Regions from separate parts of the Homo sapiens genome. Here all the other regions are linked to region 1. Evidence: fine-mapped expression QTL. A gene starts in region 1. Each other region holds a variant in brackets. All regions are shown on one strand. Distances are from middle to middle. Region 1 holds the start of C9orf40 (chromosome 9 open reading frame 40). Region 2 overlaps TRPM6 (transient receptor potential cation channel subfamily M member 6). Region 3 overlaps CARNMT1 (carnosine N-methyltransferase 1).

Evidence for each region.
Region 2: its variant is fine-mapped to the expression of C9orf40 in whole blood (INTERVAL, PIP 0.95).
Region 3: its variant is fine-mapped to the expression of C9orf40 in blood mononuclear cells (TOPMed, PIP above 0.99).

What each region holds. Positions count from the first base shown.
Region 1 is chr9:74,949,306-74,957,314 of GRCh38, forward strand. C9orf40 (chromosome 9 open reading frame 40) reads right to left here and starts at 3,607. Exons shown (of 2, transcript NM_017998.3): 1 at 2,881-3,607. The coding sequence starts at 3,306. It overlaps CARNMT1-AS1 (CARNMT1 antisense RNA 1), which reads left to right and starts at 3,660. Exons shown (of 5, transcript NR_121183.1): 1 at 3,660-3,812. RefSeq lists an enhancer at 2,499-2,568 and silencers at 2,899-3,108, 3,379-3,588.
Region 2 is chr9:74,877,134-74,885,142 of GRCh38, forward strand. The region is part of intron 1 of TRPM6 (transient receptor potential cation channel subfamily M member 6); the gene reads right to left. Among named protein-coding and RNA genes, the nearest start is that of TRPM6, 6.8 kb to the right of the region's middle. The variant C/T (reference allele first, on the strand shown) is at 4,871.
Region 3 is chr9:74,991,873-74,999,881 of GRCh38, forward strand. It overlaps CARNMT1 (carnosine N-methyltransferase 1), which reads right to left. Exons shown (of 8, transcript NM_152420.3): 4 at 7,858-7,998; 5 at 6,726-6,904; 6 at 4,575-4,688. It overlaps CARNMT1-AS1 (CARNMT1 antisense RNA 1), which reads left to right. Exons shown (of 5, transcript NR_121183.1): 5 at 4,126-5,510. Among named protein-coding and RNA genes, the nearest start is that of CARNMT1, 32 kb to the right of the region's middle. The variant A/T (reference allele first, on the strand shown) is at 4,080.

The DNA.
Region 1 (8,009 bases):
CTTGAGCCCCAGAGTTTGAGACCAGCCCTGGCAACAAAGCAAGACTCCATCTCAATTTATGAAAAACAAACAAATAAACAAGAAACTAACAGTTAACACTGACAGAGCAGTGAATCTACATAGTGACACTAACATGAAAAAAATACATGAATATTTAATGAATACCTGATTTTATTTCTGTAGTCAAAAAACATCTGAAACAGGAAATACCCTGAAGTTCCGGGACAGAAATGACGTAACATTATCCTGCCTAGATTGTATTCTCAATGTAGAAAAAAGGTATTTGAGGTAGTATTTCCTAAATGAAGTCCCAAGGGTGAGGGCTGGGACTTAAGCCCTATTCTGAGCACAAAAGAAACCAGGCATTTACTGTATTGAACTGTTTACTTCTTTTTGTTATATTCAATTTTCCCTTGGTAATCAGGTATAAAATCCTTAAAACAAAAAGCCTGTGTCTTTGGAGGCAGGAAGGAGAAACAGAAGCTGGAGAGAGCATGATTGTAAAAGAGAAGCGCCTCCAGAACAAATCTAACAAAAAGAAGGAATAGGAGTGTTACTGGGCTTTCCTCAAAAGAGGGCCTGACAGTGGCTCACGCCTGTAATCCCAGCTATTTGGTAGGCAGAGGCGGGAGGATCACTTGAGCCCAGCCTGGGTAACATGGCAAAACCCCATCTCCACAAAAAAAAAAAAATTAGTCCAGCGTGGTGGTGTGCACCTGCAGTCCCAACTATTCAGGAAGCTAAGGTTGCAGTGAGCTGGGATGGTGCCACTGCACTCCAGCCTGGGCATGGGAGCGAGACCCCAAGACCCTTTTTTAAAAAACAACAAAGAGAACAAGGGTAGTCTTGGTGAAGAAAGAACCCCTGGAGCCAACCTTTTTCCCTGTCATGCGCTTGCAGCGACTATAGGAAGTAGAGAGCTGCCAGATCTAGTTACTGCTGTGGGGGAAAAGAGTTGAGTCTAAGACTAAGCAAGCATCACCGTTTCAGGCTACTAGAGAACTCTTACGCTTTGCCTACTGCCATTTCCATATTTCCCTCTTATCACTGTGTGGCATAGTATAGACAGTGTATTCTGTATTCTGGTAGGAGACAAGCCTATGCATGAGTGGAGTACTAAAATGGTCTGAAGAGCTTTCAAAAAGTTTTCAAACTACACAGTCCCTAATCTCCATATCCATTATGGATGGATGGTTTAGAAGACTATCCATCTGTTTTCAGTTGATTTTGAATATCTGAGAGCAATCTGAAGAAAAAGTTTAAATAAGGCTCATGTTTCAACCATAGGAAAAAAAAAAAAAAAGTCTTTCCCAACTATAAAACTCTCGTTATTTTATTGGATTTTTCACATGAACAAGTCATGCCTAAGAAATTTCATTTATTTTTTTGGAAAGGTATTTGAAAACCCTGACATAAGATACTTGAGAAAATAGAAAAACGTTGGGAGGATGCTATCAGACAGCTGAAGAGAATTTGGTGAATTCTGAGAAACCTGTACTTGGTTCTTCATCTCCCAAGTCCCCTGCCATTCAGGATTGTGAAAAAGTAGTATGAATTCCTAAGTCTAGACCAAAGCTGTCCAATAAATATATAATGCTCCAAAAACATAATTTAAAATTTTCTAGTAGCTGTATTTAAAAAGTAAAAGAAACTTCTGGTATTAATTTTAATATATTTTCTTCAATATAGCCAAGTTATTTCATGTGTAATCAATATAAAATTGAGCTATTTTATCTTCATTTATTAAATCCACGAAATTTCGTGTATATTTTAAACTTAGAGCACATTTCCATTTGGACTAGTCACGTTTCAAGTGTTCTTACCGGCTAGCGGCCGGGCAGCAGAGATCTAGGCAAACCGAGGCATACCTAGATCTTCTCAGGATTCTTACATGCAGAGATGAGGCAGGCTCATGTCTTGAATAAAAACCCGCCAATGATTCTCATATACGCCTTAAGGCCCAAATTAATTTTCTTTTTTCTTTCTTTTCTTTTCTTTTTTTTTGAGACAGCGTCTCACTCTGTGGCCCAGGCTGGAGTGCACTGGCCCAATCTCAGCTCACTGCAACCGCCATCTCCCAGGTTAAAGTGATTCTTGTGCCTCAGCCTCCCGAGTAGCTGTGATTACGGGCATACACCACCACACCCAGCTAGTTTTTGTGTTTTAATAGAGACAGAGTTTCACCCTATTGGCCAGGCTGGTCTCGAACTCCCGACCTCAGGTGATCCACCCGCCGTGGCCTCCCAAAGTCCTGGGATTCCAGGCGTGAGACACCACGCCCCGCCCCCAAATTAATTTTCAATGATACTTTTGCCTAGGATCAGATTTAACACTATGAGTTAAAACAAAGCTTTGACCAAGGTACGGTGGTCCATCCTTTTCTCCAGAAGCTGTACCAGCCGGTAGGACGTTCAATTAATCAATGGCTACCACACTGGTCTCCCTCTAGAAAAAGAACTCTATCCCGAATTCTAGACTAATCATCGTTAAACCCAGGAAGGCCCTCTACACCTTTATCTGTCGTTTGTCTTTGGGCTGAACCTATGCCCTGACGGTCTGCGTTCTCGCCATGCTCACAGCCCGCCACGACCCACGGTCCCGTTTCCCTTTTACGGAGCGCGGCGCTGACGCCGCAAGGCCACTTCTATCGCTCCCGACCACGGTCTGTTTCCCCCTCGCCCAGCCCAGTGCTTTCTGCCCATCGGACTCTCGGGGTGTGCTTCTGGCGGTCGGCGTCCTCTCCCGGAGCGGTGACCCCTTCTTTCAACCCCCTCAGGCGTCTTAACCTACACAAGTCATGAGTGGGAACCGGGGCGTTTTGTGTGTGTGGGGAAAAGGCAAGCCCCTTCGCCCCTCAGCCCACCCGCCCCCAGCCCCTACCTGGCGCGATGCGACCCCCCAGTCTCCCCGCGGGGGTCCTGCGCGCCCCGCCCCGTCGTCGCCACCGCCCCCCGGGAGCCGGGCGCCCGGGAGCTCCTCCCCCGGCCCCGGCAGTACGGGCGGCGGCGGCAGCGGCGGATCGCCTGTCTCCAGACCGTGGTCCTCACGCTCCTGGCCGCTCGGGGCGCTGTTGTCCCCGCTGTCACGGCGCTTGCTGGGCGAAGCCGAGGGCTCTGCCATGGTCCCTGCGTCGATTTTGCGCTTTCGGTGCTGCTCTGGGACGCCGAGGAGCTGCCCAGCATGCGCGACCCCGGGCGGCCGGATCCAGAGAGGCGGTGGCGGCGGCTGCTCAGCGAAGTCGCAAAGCAGGAGCCGCTTCCAAGGCACGTGGAACGTCACCGGCTCGGCCGCACGCCGCTTGGCCATGGGCCCAGAGGCTCGGGCGGAGCCCGCCAGGCGCGGGAGACCGAGTGCCGATAGCTGCGGGGGGCGAAGAGCGAGGACTGAGCGCGTGAGAGAGGGACAGGCCGAAGTCGGGCGAGGAGGCGACAGGACGCTGGAGGGGGTAGGGCGGGGCAGCTCGCGCAGGGCCTAGGGCTGGGGCTCCGGCTCGGAGGCAGCTCCCGCGCTCAGCCCTCGCCGCCGCCGAGATGCGGCCCGGACGTTGAGAAGCAACCGCGAAGCGGCGGAGATTCGAACCTGCGCACAACGTGCGCGCGCGCACTCTGTCTGGCCAGGCGGAGCCGCTGGTTGGTGGAGGCTCGCGGGGCGCGCTCCCGAGCGCCCTCGCGACCGGAAGTGCGCGCTCGGGGGTAGGCGGGAAGGCCGCGGCGGGATTAATTAAAGACCCGATCAAGCGGCCCGCAGAGGGGCGTGACCTTGTTTCCTCAGGAGTGTGGCGGTGGTCTTACTACTATGTTCGTTATAGCGCGGTACGTTCTAGACCCTTCTATAGGAAATTTAAAACCTTTAAAATGTGTATTTCCTTCCTCCAGTCAGTGACCACGGGGGCGTCTCCATGAGATTAAGACAAAGATTATAATAGAGTTCCAGACTATCCTGGGCAACATAGCAAGACCTCGTCTCTACAAAAAATCAAAAATAGGCCAGGCTTGTTGGCCTGCCCCTGTGGTCCCAGCTACTCGGGAGGCTGAGGAGGAAGATTCACTTGAGCCTGGGAGGTGGAGGCTGTAGTGAGCCAGAGATCGCACCACTACACTGCAGCCTGGGCAACAGAGCGAGATGCCGTCTCAAAAAAAAAAAAAAAAAAAAGGAAAAGGATAATACAAGCTTTAAATAAAACTAGTGTTTAAGAAGCTTCACAGTAGGTTGTTATTCAAAACAAAAGACTGAAGGGAGTCTGGGCTGAGGGAAGTAGCTAAAGCTAACAGAAAACACAAATCGAAGTGTATGTTTTGCATGTTTTGCGCAGCTGCTGTGGAAGGTGAAGCAGGCCCTACATTCCTGGAAGATCTCTTGATTAAAAACTTATGGAGGAAGTTACAGACAAAATGTGCAGCTCATCCAAAATAGCTGAGTAGTTGGCAAGAACCAAGCCTGAAGCGCAGCTGTCCTTTCTAACTGAAACCTAAAATTGTTGGGCTCTTAATTAATGTTGGAAGGCTGAGTTCCCTGCTTACTATGGGCGGTGGTCAGATCAAGATTCTATGGCCATTACAGCAAAATAGTGTTGTCAGGTGAAGTGAGGTGGAGACAATTGCAGTATATTTACTATTTTATTATTTTTATTTTTTATTTTGTTTGAGACAGGGTCTCTCTCGGCCACCTAGGCGGGAGTGCAGTGGTGCCATCACGGCTCACTGCAGCCGGGCCCCACTGAGCTCAAGCGATCTCCTGTCTGGGCCTCCCAAAGTGCTTGGTTTATAGGTGTGAGCCACCGCATCTGGTCGTATTTACTATTTTAATAGTTTGATAAAGACAGTAACCAAGTAAGCAGAAATGGAAGGAAGAAAATAAGACTATTACCAGTGCTTTGAAGGGAAAAACTATCATCCTCTGTAGAAAAAGTGTGCAAGAAAGATAATTCTATTTTAGTGCTAGGTACTATCTCAGTACTAATTTACCCTGTACCCCTGCATCTCAAGGTGGTTGTGAGAGGACAAGTTAATTATTAGTTATTAACAAGCACAGAAATGTACCAAGTTAGGGTAGTAAGCAATAGCTTTTCTGTTTGGTTTTTACTTTTCTTGTTTGAAATTGGTAACCGGCCGGGTGCGGTGGCTCACGTCTTTAATCCCAGCACTTTTGGGAAGATGAGGTGCACAGATCACCTGAGCCCAGGAGTTCCATACCAGCCTGGCCAACATGGTGAAACCCCATCTCTACAGAAAATACAAAAATTAGCCAGAGGTGGTGCCTTGCACCTGTAGTCCCAGGGAGGCTGAGGTGGGAGGATCGCTTGAACCCTGGAGGCAGAGGCCAAGATTGCACCACTGTACTTCCAGCCTGGGTGACAGTGTGAGACCCTGTCTCCAAAAAAAAAAAAATAAATTGAAAACCCGTCTGTCTCAAACAGAGGAAGAGTTTTGCCATTTTTAAATCAGCAGGAAAGATCTTAATCGTAGTCATCAAGTGCTGTTTGAAAGGTTTTGAGTACCCCCAAAATAATAAGTTTAGCTAATGGTTGGTTCTTTTGTGTTCCTCTTTACAAACGCTCATTTTTTCAAAATTGTGAAACTTATCATATATGCAAAAGGTTGTATAAAATACACATGTAGTTAAAAGAATGATAGTAAGACATACAGCATTCTGTTTCAGAAATAGAATACTACCTATACTAGAACATGACAAGCTCCCTATGCGTCCCTTCCCCACTGGCACATACCCTTCCCTTTCCCTCACTCCCGGTAATTACCGTTTTACATGTTGAGTTAATCATTCCTTTGCTTTTTAACTCTTCCATTTGTATGTCTGTATGTATATTGCTAAATAACTTTTTTTTTTTTTTTTTTGAAACGGGGCTTGCTCTGTTGCCCTGGCTGGAGAGCAGTGATATGATTACAGCTCACTGCAGCCCTGACCTCTCAGGGGCAAGCAGTCCTCCCACCTCAGCCTCCTGAGTAGCTGAGACTACAGGTGTACATCACCACACCCAGCTAATTTTTAAAATTTTTTTGTAGAGCCAGGGTTTTGCCACGTTGCCCAGACTTGTCTCAAAGTCCTGAACTCAAACAATCTGCCTGCCCTGGCCTCCCAAAGTGTTGGGATTACAGGCATGAGCCACCACACCCAGCTTAATATATTTTCTGAGACCAGGTCTTGCTCTGTTGCCCAGGCTGGAATGTAGTGGCGTGATCACTGCTCACTGCAGCTTCAACTTCCTGGCCTCAAGCAATCCTCCTGCCTCAGCCTCCCAAGTAGCTGGGCCCATGGCTTGTGCCACCACACCCAGCTAATTTTTTATTTTTAGTAGCAACAAGGTCTCACTATGTTGCCCAGGCTTGTTTTGCCGGGCTTTTTTTTGTTTTTGTTTTTAAAACAGCTTTACCTAGGTCTAAATGACACACAATAATGTGCATATAAAGTGTACAATTTGACATTCATACACCTGTGAAACCATAACCACCATCAAGATGATCAAAGTTTTGAGAGCAGTCTTTGACATCTTGTTCTTTAGGAGTGTGTCAACTATACTTGGCCCTTTGTTCTTCCATAATAGCATCCTCTGTAACATTTAGTTACCCTTTTGGAATTTTGGTTATAATTGCATTGAGATTATAGATCAATTTGGGAAGAATTATTATCTTTACAATACCAAGCTCATTTCCTGTTCAAGAATATAACTATTTAAGTTTTTAAAAATCTTTCAATAAAGTTTTATATTTCTCAACATAAAGAGCTTATATCTTTGTTAAGTTTATCCCTAGGCACTTTATAATTTTTGTAGACAATATTCTTTTTCTTTTTAAATAACATTTTCTGAGTTTTTGTTGCTGCTCTGGGTTCTTTTTTTTTTAAGGCCCCAGAAGTAGAATTTGAAATTAGTTTACCCTAAGTTGTAAGTAGTACCAGATCCACTTGTTCAAGGAATTTGTCCATTTCATTCATCACATTTGTTGGAATATTTTCTTAGTTTCTCTTTTTCCCATTTCATTGGCTTCTACTAAATTTGGATTTACTTTGCTCTTCTTTCTCTAGCTTCTTCTAATAGAACCTAGGTCACTGATTGTAGTCTTTGTTAGTTTCTTTTTGGAGACAGAGTCACTCTGGCTGGAGTGAAGTGGCACGATCTTGGCTCACTGCAGCCTCTGCCTCCCAGGTTCAAGCGATTCTCCTGCCTCAGCCTCCCGAGTAGCTGGGACTACAGGTGCATGCCACCGCACCTGGCTAATTTTTGCATTTTTAGTAGAGGTGGGGTTTCACCATGCTAGCCAGCTTGGTCTCAAACTCCTGACTTCAGGTGATCCACCCACCTCGGCCTCCCAAAGTGCTGGGATTACAGGCGTGAGCCACCGTGCCCAGCCGTCTTTGTTAGTTTCTAAAATAAACACTTAAAGCTGTAACTTTCCCTGTAGCACTGCTTGGGCTACATCCTACAAATTTTGGTATGTTGTATTTTTATTATCTTTCAGTTTGAAATACTTTCAAAATTTCCTTTCTTGTTACTCTACCTCCTTCCTATCGTTATGAATTTCATTTTAAGTTAACCTATTGGTATTTACTTAGCTATACCTCTTTGAATTAATAATGTGGTTGCCATAAGGACTGTTCATATACATCTTTATTTTTTCACAGTCTAGTTCGAGCTAACATTGTACCACTTTATGTAAAACATAAATACCTTGCACCCCTCCCCCTGCCCTATCTAAATGCATTTTTTATTGATGTAATAGGATCTTCTACCTATTCTACATATCCCATAATTTTGTGGATAATAACTCAGAAGTCATTAGTTACAACAAAACAACAAAGAAGGGAAACTTTTTTTCTTCTTACTGAAAAAGGAATACACACAAACTTATTCTGCTTATCTTTAAACTTGTGTGTTTCAGACTAACTGAAGCCTCACAGCAGTGTAGGGTGGGGAAGTAGTTTAAAATTTTTTAATTGCCAGAACTTTTACATATCTCATTTGATCCCAAAAACTTTGGGGCAGATTATTGCCAGTT
Region 2 (8,009 bases), 72 kb before region 1:
ACAGTTGCTTTGAAACAAATTCTGGCACTTCCTCAAAAGGACAAACACAAGAGTTATCATATGACCCAGAAATTCCACTCCTAGGTATCGCCCCAAAAGAAATGAAAACACATGTCTATACAAAAACTTGTATACAAATGTTCATACCAGCATAATTCATAATTGTCAAAAAGTAGAAACAACACAAATATCCATCAACTGATTAATGGACAAATAATATACAATGCAGCCACAGGAAAAAAGCACCTGGACTCCAGTGGGCCCTGAGACTAACAGGGAGCTGCCTGGAGACCATGTGATGGCATTGCTCCAGGGAGGGAGCTCACACTGAGTTCCACGCACACTATGAATTCTAAGCAGCTACAGCAAGGTGCCATTTTTAGAGTCCAGCCACCACCAGACTGCATCCTATCCTGGGACCCAACAGCCCCACATCTCCATATCCCTGGAGTCCCATTGATATCCCCTGCCCACAGCCCACCTCCACTGTTTGCTGCTGCCTACAGGGCCAAACCATGAGCCATTGGCAGTGACCCCACCATGCTCCATATTGGGGTCACCACACATTTAAAAATGCCCTGAGGAAAGGCAGCCTCATTTAAAGCCACCAGCTGGAGCCAAGCTAGCTTTCCCCTGCTGCCTGTTTACAGCTTCTGCCACTGAAACAACTCTGCCCTCCCCAGCAGCAGGGCCACAATGCAGCCGCTGCCACTCCAACTCAGGCATTCCACCAGGGGCCTGGGGATCACCTCACCCCTCCTACCACAGCCAGTGGCTACATGCACCATGAGGGGCCTGAGGAGAAGCCCACCCTGTCCAACTCCATCCCACCCAGTGCTGGAGCACACCATCCAGGGGCCTAGGGATCACCTGCCCCACCCACCACAGTTGGCACCTGAGCTCTCCTCCCAGAAACCTGAGAATGGGCTCACCCAACCTGCCACCAACACCACAGCTGGCACCCACACGCACACCACCTGCAGGCCTGGGGACTGACCCACCTAGTCCATCACAGTCAATTTCAACACCAGCATGGATCACTTGGGAACCAGAGGATTGTCTCACCACTGCTACTGTCATCATTCACACCACACCCACTGTCCAGGGGCTCAAGGACACACCTGCCTGCCCTTCCCACCATTGCCACTGACAGCACCCAAGAAAGTCACCTGCAGGCCCAAGAATCAGCTCACCTGGCCCTACTAACACCAGTGTCAGCATATGCCACCCAAGGGCCCAAAGACTGGCACATTCAGCTCACTGCTATCACCACTAGGGCCCAAGGACTGGCCCATCTTATGTCCCCATCCCCAGCAAAACCTCACCAAAGCCTCCACTAACAATCACACCTGAAGCCACTGAGCAAATCTCAGACACTACTGACACTGTTTATAGCTGAAGAAATCATAACGAGACTATACTACTGCACACACCCAGAATCAAAGCCAAAGTGCCCTACCTAAACACCGCCACATAAACGTCTTCAGAATACAATCCCCCCCGTGCAAGCAAATTCAAAAGATTGGAAGAAGCAATGGTTATGCCACATGCACAGATATCAATGTAAGGACACGAGAAACATGAAAAAGCAAGGAAATATGATACCTCCAAAGGAACATAATAATTCTCCAGCAATAGATTTCAATGAAGAAATTCATAAAACCCAGGAAAAAGAAATCAAACTAATGACATTAAAGAAGCTCAGCCAGGTGTGGTGGCTCATTCCTGTAATCTTAGTTACTTGAGAAGCTGATGCAGGAGGACCACTCAACCTCAGGAGTTCAGGAGTTCAATCTGCCATTGAGCTATGATTGTACCACTGGAATCCAGCCTTGGCAACAGAGTGAAACCTCATCTCAAAAAAAATTTCTTTTTAATTTTAAAAAAGTTTTATTTAAAAAGCTCAGTGAGATACAAGAGAACTTGAAAATACAATACAAAGAAATCAGAAAATTCAGGATACAAATGAAAAATTGACAAAAGACATAAATATCATTAAAAAAGAACCAAAAGAAATTCTAGAATTAAAGAATTCTCTGAATGAAATACAAAATATATTAGAAAGCTTCAACAATAGACTCAATCAAGCAGAAAGAATATGAGCACCTGAAAACAAGTGTGATGAAATAACCCAGTCAATGTGGTGTAATGATTTAAATACATATATTTGTATATGATTTATATATATATGATTTATATACATATATACATATATATATAACAAGGAACCATTTTATATATATAAAGGAACCATGGATATATATAGGGTTTTACCCATGGTTCCTTGTTAATAACTCCCATATCCTTTCTTTGAGTCTTTTGTTATAATGTCAGGTGTGTTAGGCCTCAGGGGAAGTTCTGAGGAAACAGAATTTGTCTCCTGCCTTTCTTATACCTGGCCCAATGCAGGATTCTAATCTTTCTGCTCCTTTCTGATTGTGGGCCTTAAGTCCCTTCCCAGAGAGGGTCCCACCCTATACCCTGGGAGAAGAAATTTTGACATCATGAAGCTTCCATAAAAATCCAAGAGGACCAGGTTTGGTGAGTTCCTGGATAGCTGAACACATAGAGGTTCCTGAAGGGTGATATGCCCAGGGAGGCATGGAAGCTGTGCAACCCTTCCCCCATACCTAGCCCTGTGCATCTCTTCATCTATATCCTTTGTAGTATCCTTTATAATTAACCAGCAAATGTGTTTCCCTAAGTTCTGTGAGCCGCCCCAGCAAAATTAATGAAATCCAAAGAGGAGGTCATGGGAACCCCAACTTGAAGCCAGTCAGTTAGAAGTTCCATCTGAAGGAGGCAGATGTAGTCTTGGGGAATGAGTCCCCAACTTGTGTGATCTGGCACTATCTTCAGGTAGATAGTGTCAGAACTGAATTGGAAGACACCTACCTGGCATCCGCTGCTTGATGTGATGGGAAAACTCCCACACACATATTTGTCACAGGAGTCCTCTGTGCTGATTGTTGTGGTGTAAAAGTAGAGGAGAAATGAGGATTTTTCCTGACACAGACAAAAATAAAGAAAAAATAATCTAAAGAATAAAGTCTATGTGACATATGAGGCACCATAAAGAAGCCAAATATTCAAAATTTTGGTGCTCTGGAAGGTGAAGAGAAAACAAAAGGAACAGAAAACCTATTTAATGAAATAATAACTGAAAACCTCCCAGGTCTAGCAAGAGATGTAGACGTCCGGAAACAGGAAGCTCAGAGATTGCCAGAAAGATACAATTCAAAAAGATCTTTTCCAGAGCACATTATAGTCAAACTGAAAGAATTCTAAATTCTAAAAACAGCAAAAGAAAAATGTCCAGTGATTTATACAGGAACCTCCATCAGACTAACAGCAAATTTCTCAATAGAAACTTTACAAGCCAGGAGAGAATGCAATGATATATTCAAAATACCGAAAAAAAAAGCACTGCCATCCAAGGATACTATTCCTAGCAATGTTATCCTTCATAAATAAATGAGAAGTGAAGTCTTTCCCAGATAAGCAAAAGCTGAAGAAATTCATCACCATTAAACCAGTCCTATAAGAAATGTTTCAGCAAGTCCTGCACATAGAAGCAAAAAGACAGTATCTACCATCATGAAAATACACGAAAGTATAAAACCCACTAATAGGACAAACACACAAATAAGGAAGTAAAAGTGCTTAAATGTTACCACTACAGAATACCACCAAACCACAATGATAAACAATAAGAGAGAAAGAAAAGAACCAAGGATATACAAAACAACGAGACATCAATTAATAAAATGGCAAGAATAAGTGCTCCCAGATCAATAATAACCGTGAAACTAAATGGATTAAATTTTCTACTTAACACATATAGATTGGCTGAATGGATTGGAAAAAAACAATGACCCTGGCTGGGCGTGGTAGCTTGCACCTGTAATCCTAGCACTTTGGGAGGCCCAAATGGGAGGATCACTTGAGGCCAGGAGTTCAAGACCAGCCTGGTCAACGTAGCGAGATCCCATCTCTACAAAAAAATTTTTTTAATTGAAAAAAAAGACCCAACTATATGCTACCTGTAAGAAACTCATCTCACCTATAAAGACAGATATAGACTGAAAGTAAAGGAATGGAAAAAGATATTCCACGCAAACAGAAACCAAACGCAAGCATAAATAACTATACTTATATCAGATGAAACAAACTTTAAGTAAAAAAAAAGTTAAAAGAGACAAAAAATGTAATTATATAATTATAATTATATAAGGCAATCAATTCAGCAAGAAAGTATAACAATTCTAAACATATATGCACCTAACAAAGCATGCACCCCAATATATAAAGCAAATATTATTCGATCAAACAGAACAAATAGACTCCAATACAGTAACGGTTGGGGACTTCAACACCCCACTCTCAGCATTACACAGATTATCTAAACAGAAAATTAAAATAATATTTAAATTGTACTTTAGACCAAATGGACCTAATAAATATTGACAGAACATCTCATCCAACAGTTCCAGAATACACATTTTTATCAGCATGTGGAACATTCTCCAGAATAGACTATATGGTAAAACACAAAACACATCTCAACTAATTTTTAAAAATCAAAATCATATCATGTATCTTCTCAGACCACAAGATAAAGTAAAACTAGAAATCAATAATAAGAGGAACTTTGGAAACTGTACAAAAGTATTCTTATAGCTATAGTAACCAAAACAGCATGCTATTGGTATAAAAAGACACATAGACCATTGAACAAAATAGAGAACACAGAAGTAATTCCACATTTTTACAGCTAACTGAATTTTGACAAAGGCATCAAGAACATACATTGGTTACAGGACATCATCTTCAATAAATCATGCTGGGAAAACTGGATATTTATATGCAG[C/T]AGAATGAAACTGAACTCCTATCTCTCACCATATACAAAAATCAACTCAAGATGCATTAAAGACATAAATGCAAGACTTCAACTATAAAGATACTAGAAGAAAATATAACGGAAACACTTCAGGACATTGATCTAAGCAAAGATTTTGCAGCTAAGACCTCATAAGCACAGACAACAAAAACAAAAGTACACAACTGATTCAGTGCTTCTTGGTTGGTTAAAAAGAAAAAAGAGAAACAAAAATACACAAATGAGACCATGTTAAACTAAAAAGTTTCTGCACAGTGAAGGAAACAATCAACAAAATGAAGAGACAATCTGTTGAGTTGGAGAAAATATCTGCAAACTATTTATTTGACAGGGGACTAATATCCAGAATATTAAAAGAACTCAAACAACTCAACAGTAAACACAAAACAAATAAGCCCACTGAAGAGTGGGCAAAGGACATGAATCAACGTTTCTCAAACGAATACATACAAACAGCCAACATGCATATGAAAATATGCTCAACATCACTAATCAGCAGTAAAATGCAAATCAAAACCACAATGAGATATCATCTCGCTCCAGTTAAAATGGTTATCATAAAGAAGACAAAAATTAACAAATACTGGCAAGGATGCAGAGAAAGGAGACCCTCATACACTGTTGATAGGAATGTAATTTAGTACAGCCGTTATGGAAAACAGTAATGGAGGTTCCTCCAAAAACTAAAAATGGAATTACCATTCAATCCTGCATTCCCACTACTGAGTATTCATCCAGCTGAAAGCAGATTCAACCACCTATTCAAAGTATAAGACAAAGCCCACTACAAAGGAGTCTGTGTGAGAATCTCTTTTTCCATTTTTGTTTTAATTGTGGTAAAATATATAATGTAAAATTTACCATCCTAACCATTTTTAAGTGTGTAGCTCAGTTTTGCTAAGTATATTCACATTGTTGTGCGGCCAATCTCCAGAACTTTTTCATCTCGAAAAACTGAAACTCTATACCCATTAAACAACTAAACATTTCCCCTCCCCTAGCCCTGCCAACCATAATTCCACTTTTTGTTTGTATGAATTTGATTTCTATAGATGCCTCATAAGTGGAATCATACAGTATTTATCTTTTTGTGACTGGTTTATTTTACTTAGCATTATGTCCTCAAGGTTCATCCATGTTGTAGCATGTGTCAGAATTTCCCTCCATTTTAAGGCTGAATAATATTCCCTTGTGTATATATGCCATATTTTGTTTATCCATCCAGAAAATCTATTTCTATGTCAGTGGTATTGTTCTGTTGGTCTGGTGGCACAACAGGTATTTAGCTCAATTTTTAATGATTGTGATTTTATACCAAGAGAAAAAGAGATGTGATTGTATATTTGCACTCTAGGAAAGGAAAACCAAATTAAAGCTGAAACTGAGCTCAGTTTCATCGAGAAGCATCTCACTATCCCTTTCTATCTCAAAAATAAAAGTTTTATTCACTGTATATTCCCAGATTCTGGAAGACAGTTTGGCACATAACACTCGGTCAGTATTTGTGACTGATTGTGAAGAGAAAATGCTATACCTATGATCTTGATCACTCCAGTTCATCTGAACATACTATTCAAGAAGGCACTAATGTGTATTGACATGGAAAAATCTACAGGAACTACTGTTAAGTGAAACAAGTTACAGATCAATATATACAATATGATTCAATTTATTTAAAAACACATGCAAAGCCAGGCACGGTGTCATGTGCCTGTAATCCCAGATACTTGAGAGGTTGAGGTAAGAGGATCCTTTGAGCTCAGGAGTTCAAGACTAGCGTGGGCAACATAGTAAGATTCCATCTCAATAAAATAAAATTAAATTAAAATAAATAGATCGGGTGCAGTGGCTCATGCCTGTAATCCCAGCACTTTGGAAGGCCGAGGTGGGTGGATCACCTGAGGTCGGGAGTTCGAGACCATCCTGACCAACATGGAGAAACCCTGTCTCTACTAAAAGTACAAAATTAGCTGGGCATGGTGGCACATGCCTGTAATCCCAGCTACTTGGGAGGCTGAGGCAGGAGAATCGCTTGAACCTGGGACGCAGAGGTTGTGGTGAGCCAAGATTGTGCCATTGCACTCCAGCCTGGGCAACAAGAGCAAAACTCCATCTCAAAAAATAAAGTAAATAAATAAATAAATGCACAAATCAAAATAATAAATACATATGTATGGCCAGGCACAGTGGCTCACACCTATAATCCCAGCACTCTGGGAGGCTGAGGTGGGCAGATCACGAGGTCAAGAAATCAAGACCATCCTGCATAACAGGTGAAACCCCGTCTCGACTAAAAATACAAAAAATGAGCCGGGCGTGGTGGCGGGTGCCTGTAGTCCCAGCTACTCGGGAGGCTGAGGCAGGAGAATGGTGTGAACCCAGCAGGCGGAGCTTGCACTGAGCTGAGATCGTGCCACTGCACTCCAGCCTGGGAGACAGAGCGAGACTCTGTCTCAAAAATAAATACATATATACATACATACATACATACATACATACATACATACATACGTATATAAAAGCACATCTAAATAATATGCTCCAAATCAACAGTTTGATTACCTCTGGGTCAGAGGGGGAGTAGTTGAGGGGTAGAAAGGGAACTTTCTATTTGGATTTCTATTTGTAGTATTTGAATTATTTACAACAAGAAATTATTTTTATATTGTTAGTGACAAAGTTTTTAAGGGAAAAACATCTGGAGAATTATTTTCTGTGATACACAATCAAGGAAAAAAACATATTCAATTCTGTTTACCTTACATGTACCTTTTCTTAGAAAGCTACTGGAGAATGTGCTCCATCAAAATGATAGAAGAAATCAAAAAAGACTAAGGTGTGGGATATAGGAAACAGGAGCCAGCATAACAGAGATGCAAAGTGAATCAGTCCCCAAATGATGGTGAAGAGAGAGCCCAAGGTAATAGCTGTGCATCAAACATCAAGAGCAACCAGTCTGGACTGGCAAAGCAGGTAAGAAAGCTGTGATAGAAATAAAATTGATTCAAATAGCTGTTGCATTGGACATCTTGAGGGAAGATTTAGACAACTAACAAAGAACTTGTGGTTAAATTGGTGAAAACTTTGCAAACACAGAGAGACAACTCTG
Region 3 (8,009 bases), 43 kb after region 1:
ATTCTTTGTCCATGTGTTTTATATCTTTTTATATTTTTACTACTACTATAATGAGGAAAGGGCTGTATGTGTTCAGTCATCTATCTTTTAAAGGGAATCTCGTTTTAAAAAATTCTAGGCCAGGCACAGTGGCTCACGCTTGTAATCCCAGCACTTTGGGAGGCTGAGGCAGGTGGATCACCTGAGGTCGGCAGTTCAAGACCAGCCTGGCCAACATGGTGAAACCCCATCTCCACTTAAAATACAAAAAACAGCCAGGTGTGGTGGCGCACGCCTGTAACCCCAGCTACTTGAGAGGCTGAGGCATAAGAATCGCTTGAACCCAGGAGACAGAGGTTGCAGTGAGCCGAGATGGTACCACTGCACTCCAGCCTGGGTGACAGAGTGAGACTCCATCTAAAAAAAAAAAAGAAAAAAAAATTCTGTAGCTTCATAATGCTCTAAAATCTGATAAGACCTATCTTTCAGTACACTTTACAAAGATCTCCTTTGGTACTTTTACCAGATGTAGTTACATTTTAATTCTTCAGATGTAGTTAGATTCATTTTATTAATTCTTCCAGATGTAGCTAAATGCCTGCCCTCCACTACCTGACTCCCAAATTTATCAGTGGATACATACACACACACTTTCTTTTTAGAAGAAATTATAAATAAATGTGTTTAAGGAGTGCTGGTCAGGATGAAAAACTGAAAAAGGGAATTCACAGGCATTCTTTTGTTCTTTGCCAAAATCATAGCCTTACCCAAAGGACATATGCATAATAGTTCCCTTAAAAGGCTTACTAGCTTTCCTTAAACTGGGTAGTGTTAAAGAGTCCATCAAATCCTCCTTAATTAAAGCATTTGTAAATTAATGATCCCCACCAAATCTGATTTCATGCAGTTTGGGCAACATTTTCATATATAATTTTACCTCCAATGTCATTTGTTCCAGAATGGCTGGCCATTACATTTCCCATTATATATGAATATATTGATGTTCTAGTCTACCTAAGCAGGGTTAGGGTAAAATCATCCCCAAGAGGTTGATCTCTCAGTTTACAGGGTAAATTAAGCCTCCAGGTCTATATAATTAAAGCCAAAACCATAAGAATGTTATGAATTTACCAATATAGATGGCACTTCATCATCTCTTCGAGACATCTTAGTATGTTCCCTTTTTCAAATTTTGAAACAATACATTCATACATACATGTAACAGTCATTAATACCCATTGTTTGCCAGGCTTTGTACCAGGTGACTAGGAAGCATTAGATCTTTGCCCTTATGGAGCTTAGAGACTAGCAGTGGAAACAAAAGCATATGGGTGCTAATACCAAACTGAAGTATATGTTACAGCAGAGTCTCTTAGAACATAAGAAATACAGAATACTTAACCCAACCCGAAAGGATCACCTGAGCTAAGTGTTTAAGAACACATAAGGACTAACCAAGGGAAAACAGAAGAGAAAGAAAGGGCTAAGTCAAAGGACTGGCACTTGAGGTCAGAGAAGGGGTGGTAAAAAATAATCCTGAAGGTAAAAAACATAATCCTGAAGAGTTTAGGTTTTCCAGAAAGCTAGAATTTCATGCAGGGAGTCTTACAGGAACAGATTTGCATGTTAGGAAGGTCACTGATGATTATGTGGAGAAATGAAAAGGGCCGAAGACAACTTGAAGGCAGGGGCGTCCTTAAGGAAATTACTACAGTAATCCTAATGCTAATCCAGGCAAGAAACCATGAAATTGGAGCAATGGTTCTCAACTGGGGATGACTCTGCCAACACCCTCCACCCCCGGAGGGCAACATTTTTCAATATCTAAAGACATTTTGGTTGTCAAAACTGGGAGGTACTACTGGAGTCTTAGAGGCCAGGAAGGCTGTTAACCATCCTACACTATACAGGTCAGACCCCCACTTCCCTCACCACTCCCACTGAAGAATGATCCAGCCCAAATGTCAAAACCACAATCGAGAAACCCTGGAATAGAAGGATATTCAAGAGCGATTAAGTAGCTTTAGGAGATACAACTTTTAGACTGACTAGAGACAAACAGCGAGGAAAAAGAGAGGTCCTATTGACTGTTTGTGTCCCCCTGCCTCCAAATTCACATGTTGAAGCCCTAATCCCCAGTGTGGCTGTATTTGAAAGTAGGACTTCTAAGGAAGTAATTAAGGTAAATGAGGTCGTAAGGGTGGGGTCCTCATCCAATAGGATTAGTGTCCTTATAAGAAGAGACACACCAAAGAGCTCACTCATGCTCTCATTCACTCCTTCTCCCTCTATGCACAACCAAAGAAAGGCTATGTGAATACACAGCAAGAGGGTAACCCCTGCAAATCAAAGGAAGAGCCCTCACTAGACACCAACCTGGTGAGCACCTGGAATTCCAGTCATCAGAACTGTGAGAAAATAAACTTGTTATTTAAGCCACCCAATCTGTGGTATTGTTATGGTAGCCTGAGTGACCTAATAAAAGGGGTAACGAAAGGCTCCCAGTATTTTTCTTCAGGGTAACCTGAGTAGATGATTAATAGAAAAGATATTGGGAGGCATGGAATCATTTTCTGTTTTGTTTTGGCTTTTTTTTGAGATGGGGTCTCAGGGCATGTTGCCCAGGCTGGTCTTGAGACACAAGGATTTTGAAGTATCTGTGGTACACCCAAGTTGGACATACTGGCTTGGAGCACAAGAGAGATGTTTGGACCAGAGATACAGATTGGGAATCCAAAGAGTAGGAAAAGCCATGAGATTAGGTAGGAGGAATATGGAGTCAAAAATGAGTACATGGCATAAAAAATGAAAAACACAGATTAGATGCCCAGAACACAGTAACATTTAAAAGAAAGCTGATTCTGAGACTTTTTTTTTTACATTCTTTAACTTATACATGCAAAAGATGTGTAAGTTAATACTTTATAAAGTACTAACCTTCCAAATAACTATTTTTAAGGACTGTGTTTCTCCATTATTACAATTTTCAAAATTGTTTTGAGACTCCATAATGGAATTAGCTCTCCTAATTGACTTCCTGTTAACCAACATGCTCCATTACTTCTGATGCCCATGACAGATCATAAGTCACACTATAGTACATCTACTCTTATCAAACAGTATACTTATCAGGAGCCAACTTTATGTGCTTCAGGTAGTTACAATTATTGTATTATATAACTTAATAAAATATTCATAAACCAATAAAACAAATGTTAAAAAAAAAGCTGTTTCTATGAAAGTCACATGCTCTGGAAATACATAAAACCTTACCATAACTCAGTAATGGGGGTCAAAAAATTTAATTATATAAACACAGGGTCATGTTAATGCTAACTTACAAATTAACTGAGGGTAATCAAGAAATTGGCTCTGGGCTTCAAGCCTGTCTTTGCCACATGTAAGCTACAGGACTGTTCTGCTAGTTATTTAACCCAAGACTCTAAGTCTCTTCAACTATAACATAGTGCCATTTCAATATAGGGCTGCTTTGAGATTCCACAAGGTATTTATAAGGGACCAACACAGTACCTAACCCACAGTAAGCAAATACCCAGTAGGTAATATCTTTCCATTTTTCCTTGGGAAAAATTTCCCAAGGTAACTACTTTTAAAGAAGACTTACAGTTTGGGATATTTATTTTATTATGATTGCATTGTACAGCTGCTTTCATCTGGTCCTAAGGAATTCTTAAGAGAAGTTTGCAAAAGACTTACTACTACCTCCAGGGCTTAGTCCCAAATGGCAAAATTTCTGGTAAATTAAAATTAAAAAGAGAGTAGGTGTCAGAAATCAGTCACAAAACTAGACCCACCCGGAAGGCCAAGGGCTCAAGACCATGTACGTTATGTCCTTTTATGTAGTATAATAATCCTTATCTTGAAAACCTTTATGTTCTAGTCATGATGTCTTTCTGAACACAGATTATATATCTCACGAAAGAATACATGTATATCTACCTGAATATTATCATTATACCCCCTTTATTTTAAAAAGGAGTAAAATGGCAATTTCCTTTAGATTCTGGACTGGAGGGACCATGTTATAGTCAACATTTAATTTCTAACATCGAGTAGTAAGTAGAATGCAGTAAAAAAAA[A/T]TTTTGCATAAAAAAAATTGTGTTTCTATTCTTTCTTAAACTCAAGGTAATCACAGAAGTTATCACACCTACACCCTTCCCAGTATATGGATGTACTAGGGAGGAAGATTCCATGGAAGAGGTAAAATCTCCCCGCATGCTTCATTATAGAAAGAAAAAGAGAACACTCTCTTCCTAACAGAACGGACCACTGTCTCAGCATGTGGGATGGTGATAATGAGGGAATGATTACCTACCATCAGATCAACAATTAGTATACACTGAAATTACAATGACTGTGAGACTGACCTAAGTGTGAATATACAACTTCTGAGCTTCCACTGCCTTTGGAGGGATCACCACCAGGATGCAGTCTAAAGGAAACTGTAGTGGTTTTAAAACATTTACAACATAATTCTAATGTTCATGCACATTTGAGACTGTGAAGTTAAATGTAATACAGCTGTAAGTACTCAGATTAATATACAAAATTTTAGTAAATACTAAAAAACTTACCTAGATTTATCCAAATTCCACCTGGCTTGAGTATTTTCCATATTGTATCAATATAATCAATTACATTGTGAGCTGTGTCTATGAAGAAACAGGTAGCAATACAGTCCCAGGTATCTAATGAAGAAAAATCAAATTACTGCATCTGTTATGTTATTTTGCTTTTTTCTTTTAATTAATTATTTAAATCTGCCAGTTACCTTTTACAGAGTATTAATATTTGACAGAGATACAGAAGCTAAACTTCTGATCAACATTATAATTACAGTAACCAAACAGTCATTTATGGGAAATACTGATATCAATAATCTGATTAAGTAATCAATTTGGAAATCATCCCCAATAACACTAATATTATAATCTAATCTCTACATATTATTACCAAATGGTATTTGTTAGAGTTTTGTTTATCCTCTATTCAACTTCTAGCCTTCATTTAAAATCACTTAAAACAAAATAATAGTCATTCAAATTTAAACTAGTGTTAACCACCAATTCTGGCAGGTTTCAGAAAGACTGCAGGCACCAGTTGCCAACTGAGAAATGAATGACATCCAAATACTTCAACATCTACCACAACTTCGAATAATTACCAGGGAAAAAGGGGAGCCAGGGGCAGGCAGAAGCAGTGGGTGGGAACCCAGTAGAGAACACCGTTTGCCTCTAGGAGGTATGGTGTCTATACAAATGCTGGTGCAATAAAGGCACTTGATCCCATGGAGGACTACCTTCATCATCTGTTCTCTCAAACCTTGCTCCAGAAAAAGGGGACTTTTACTTGCCTAAGTGATGTTTTCCATTATTTCATTCCTTATCCACAACACCTAACATCTTCCATCTCTCCCTTTCTTCCTTCAGAGTACAGGTTGTCCCAGTCTCAGAGTTCAGAGAAAAATAAACAAAAACTTTCTATGTTGTAAAATAAATAAATAAATAAAAACAATCTATGTTGTTGCTATCCCTGCTTTAAGCCCTCCAATGGCTTCCTGTTTCTCTGAGTACAATTCCAAGTCCTTGCTATGGCCTGCCAACAAGTTTGCCTCATCAAACCCTCTCGAGGCTGACCTCTCACCACTGTACCCATTGCTTACTACAGCCTAGCTCCTCCTTGAGCAGAGCAAGCACTCACTCTACTCCCTGATCCTCTTCCCTTGCCATTCCCCATCTGCAAAATTTTGCCTTCAAATATCTCAGTGGTTTGTCTGTGTACTCTTTCAAGGTTCTCTACTAGACATTTTTTTTTTTTAGTTTCTACTCTTAGAAAGGCTTTCCCTGACAACTCTATATAAAGCAGCAGCCTCTCCCCAGTCACTCTGTAACCCGTCTTCCCTGCCTTATTTTTTCTTCCTTACAATATTGTATTTGTTATTGCCTCACTTTCTCTATTGGAAGTTCTCTGTGGACAGGGATTTTGTTTTGTTCACTGTTCTCTTTTGACACCTAGAAAAATACCTAGTACTTAGTAGGTGCTCAACAAATACCTATTGACTCAATGATCTTGCTGAACCCTCGGTATTCTATTTTGCTTTCCTTTTAGTGCCAATCTCCCTCTCCACTTTCCCTATTACCATCTCCCTTTCTCTCCTGCCTAGCTCAGATTTCTTCAACAGTTTGCCAGGCTGAAGTCAACTGTGCAGCCTGACTATACAAGTCCTCCATGATCTGGAACAAATTCACTTTTCTAGCAATAGCTCCTATTAAATCTCATTAAATCTCCCATTAAATCTTTTCTTTCCCTGCCAGTACAGCTGTGCTGCCATCCCCAATCACCTTGTTCATATCTTTGTACTTCTGTCTGCCTCAAATGCTATTCTCTCAACCTTCAAGTCATAGCCTCACTATGAACAGCTTCCTTCTTACACTAATAACCTTTCATTTTTTTGGTATTCATTACTCATTTAACCTTTGTTTACATGGTATCTCTTAGTATTAATGGGCCCAACAGATTCTAAATTTCTTGACTGTAGATATCTTACACTTCTTATTTCCTATCACTGCCTTGTACACGACCTTGAAAACATTCTAAATTGACACTGACATATGCCTTATGTTCTACCATCAAAATGAATGATCTAAACCTTGGCTTAGGATAAAACTAGCTCATTAAATTTAGAATAAAGGACAAGACTTTTTAAACGCTTGATTTGGACTTACTGCATTCTGAATAAATCTCTTGAAAATCTCCTGCTGTCATAGAAAAGTTAGAACCAGGAGGAAGACTGTGGGGGTCAACATCAGGGAAAAAGATGGGTCGAATCTGATCAGCTGATCTCCGGTTATTGCTAAACTGATGGATCCAAGGATAAAGTTTATATTTATTAATTTCAGAACATCTGCAAAATATGAGTATAAAATCAGGTGTTAACTAAATATTTTACCAAGAAAATCCACTTTAAATACTAAAAATATACTGTTTAATTGAAGATTTGCATATATAATTAATATTTAAAGAGTCACTATTACAGCTTCCCTAATTATCTGAAAATGTACATATACATGTAGATGAGCAACCAATCAATGGATTAAAGACAGAAAAAAAAAGTAAATTCAGAGATATAAATGTGCTGTTCATTCAGATTTTTAAAAATGTATTTCTAAACTTCAAAACCAAGTAATAACAGTCCAACGAGGTTTTTTAAAATGGTACTGGTTTCAACTAAAACAGTTTGCTATTTTTTGTATAACCCTCTTCTTTTTTCCCTTTTTCACCAATCCCCTAAAACTCATACTGCCATCCGAGACAACATATTATTTAAACAAGGCAGCTACTCAATGTACATCTTCTGGCTTTAAAAATAACAATTGTTTTCCACTGCCTTCCAAAAGAGGCCACAGAAGTTCTGAGAGATCTTTCCAACTCAGTCATGAGAGCATACTTGGCCATTTTATAAGAACTTGATTAAGGAGAAAAAGTTATAATTGCTAAACTAAACTCTTATTTAACTAAAGAAACAAGGAAGTAAAGAAGCTTAAGGAATAAATTTAGAAATACTCCTTCCTGGTTCATACTTAGTCCTGAAGATTTTGTACAGAAATCATTTCATGGAATGCCCAGTCACTTTCTATAAAGTCACTTACCCATCTTGTTTCAACACTCTAATAACTAGGCAATTGGTTCAAGTGATAATTTGTGTAAGTACTTTGATTTTAACATAAGACACATTTGTGATATATATAATAATCAAATGCTATGTACTTATCTTCAAATTCAAAATTGTTCAAGAAAATAGGTAAGTCAATCTGATTCTGAGAAATTACTATTTCCAGCAAAAAATAAATTAAATACCTGTTGAGTACAAAGTTGGAAGAAAAGAGCATAAAAAAACTCCATTCATTTCCTTGACAAGCATAACCTAGCATAGCTATTTCCCAGGCCAGTCTTCCTAGTCCAGCACCAGGTACCAGAATATTTACTTTAGAAGGATCCCTGAAATGAAA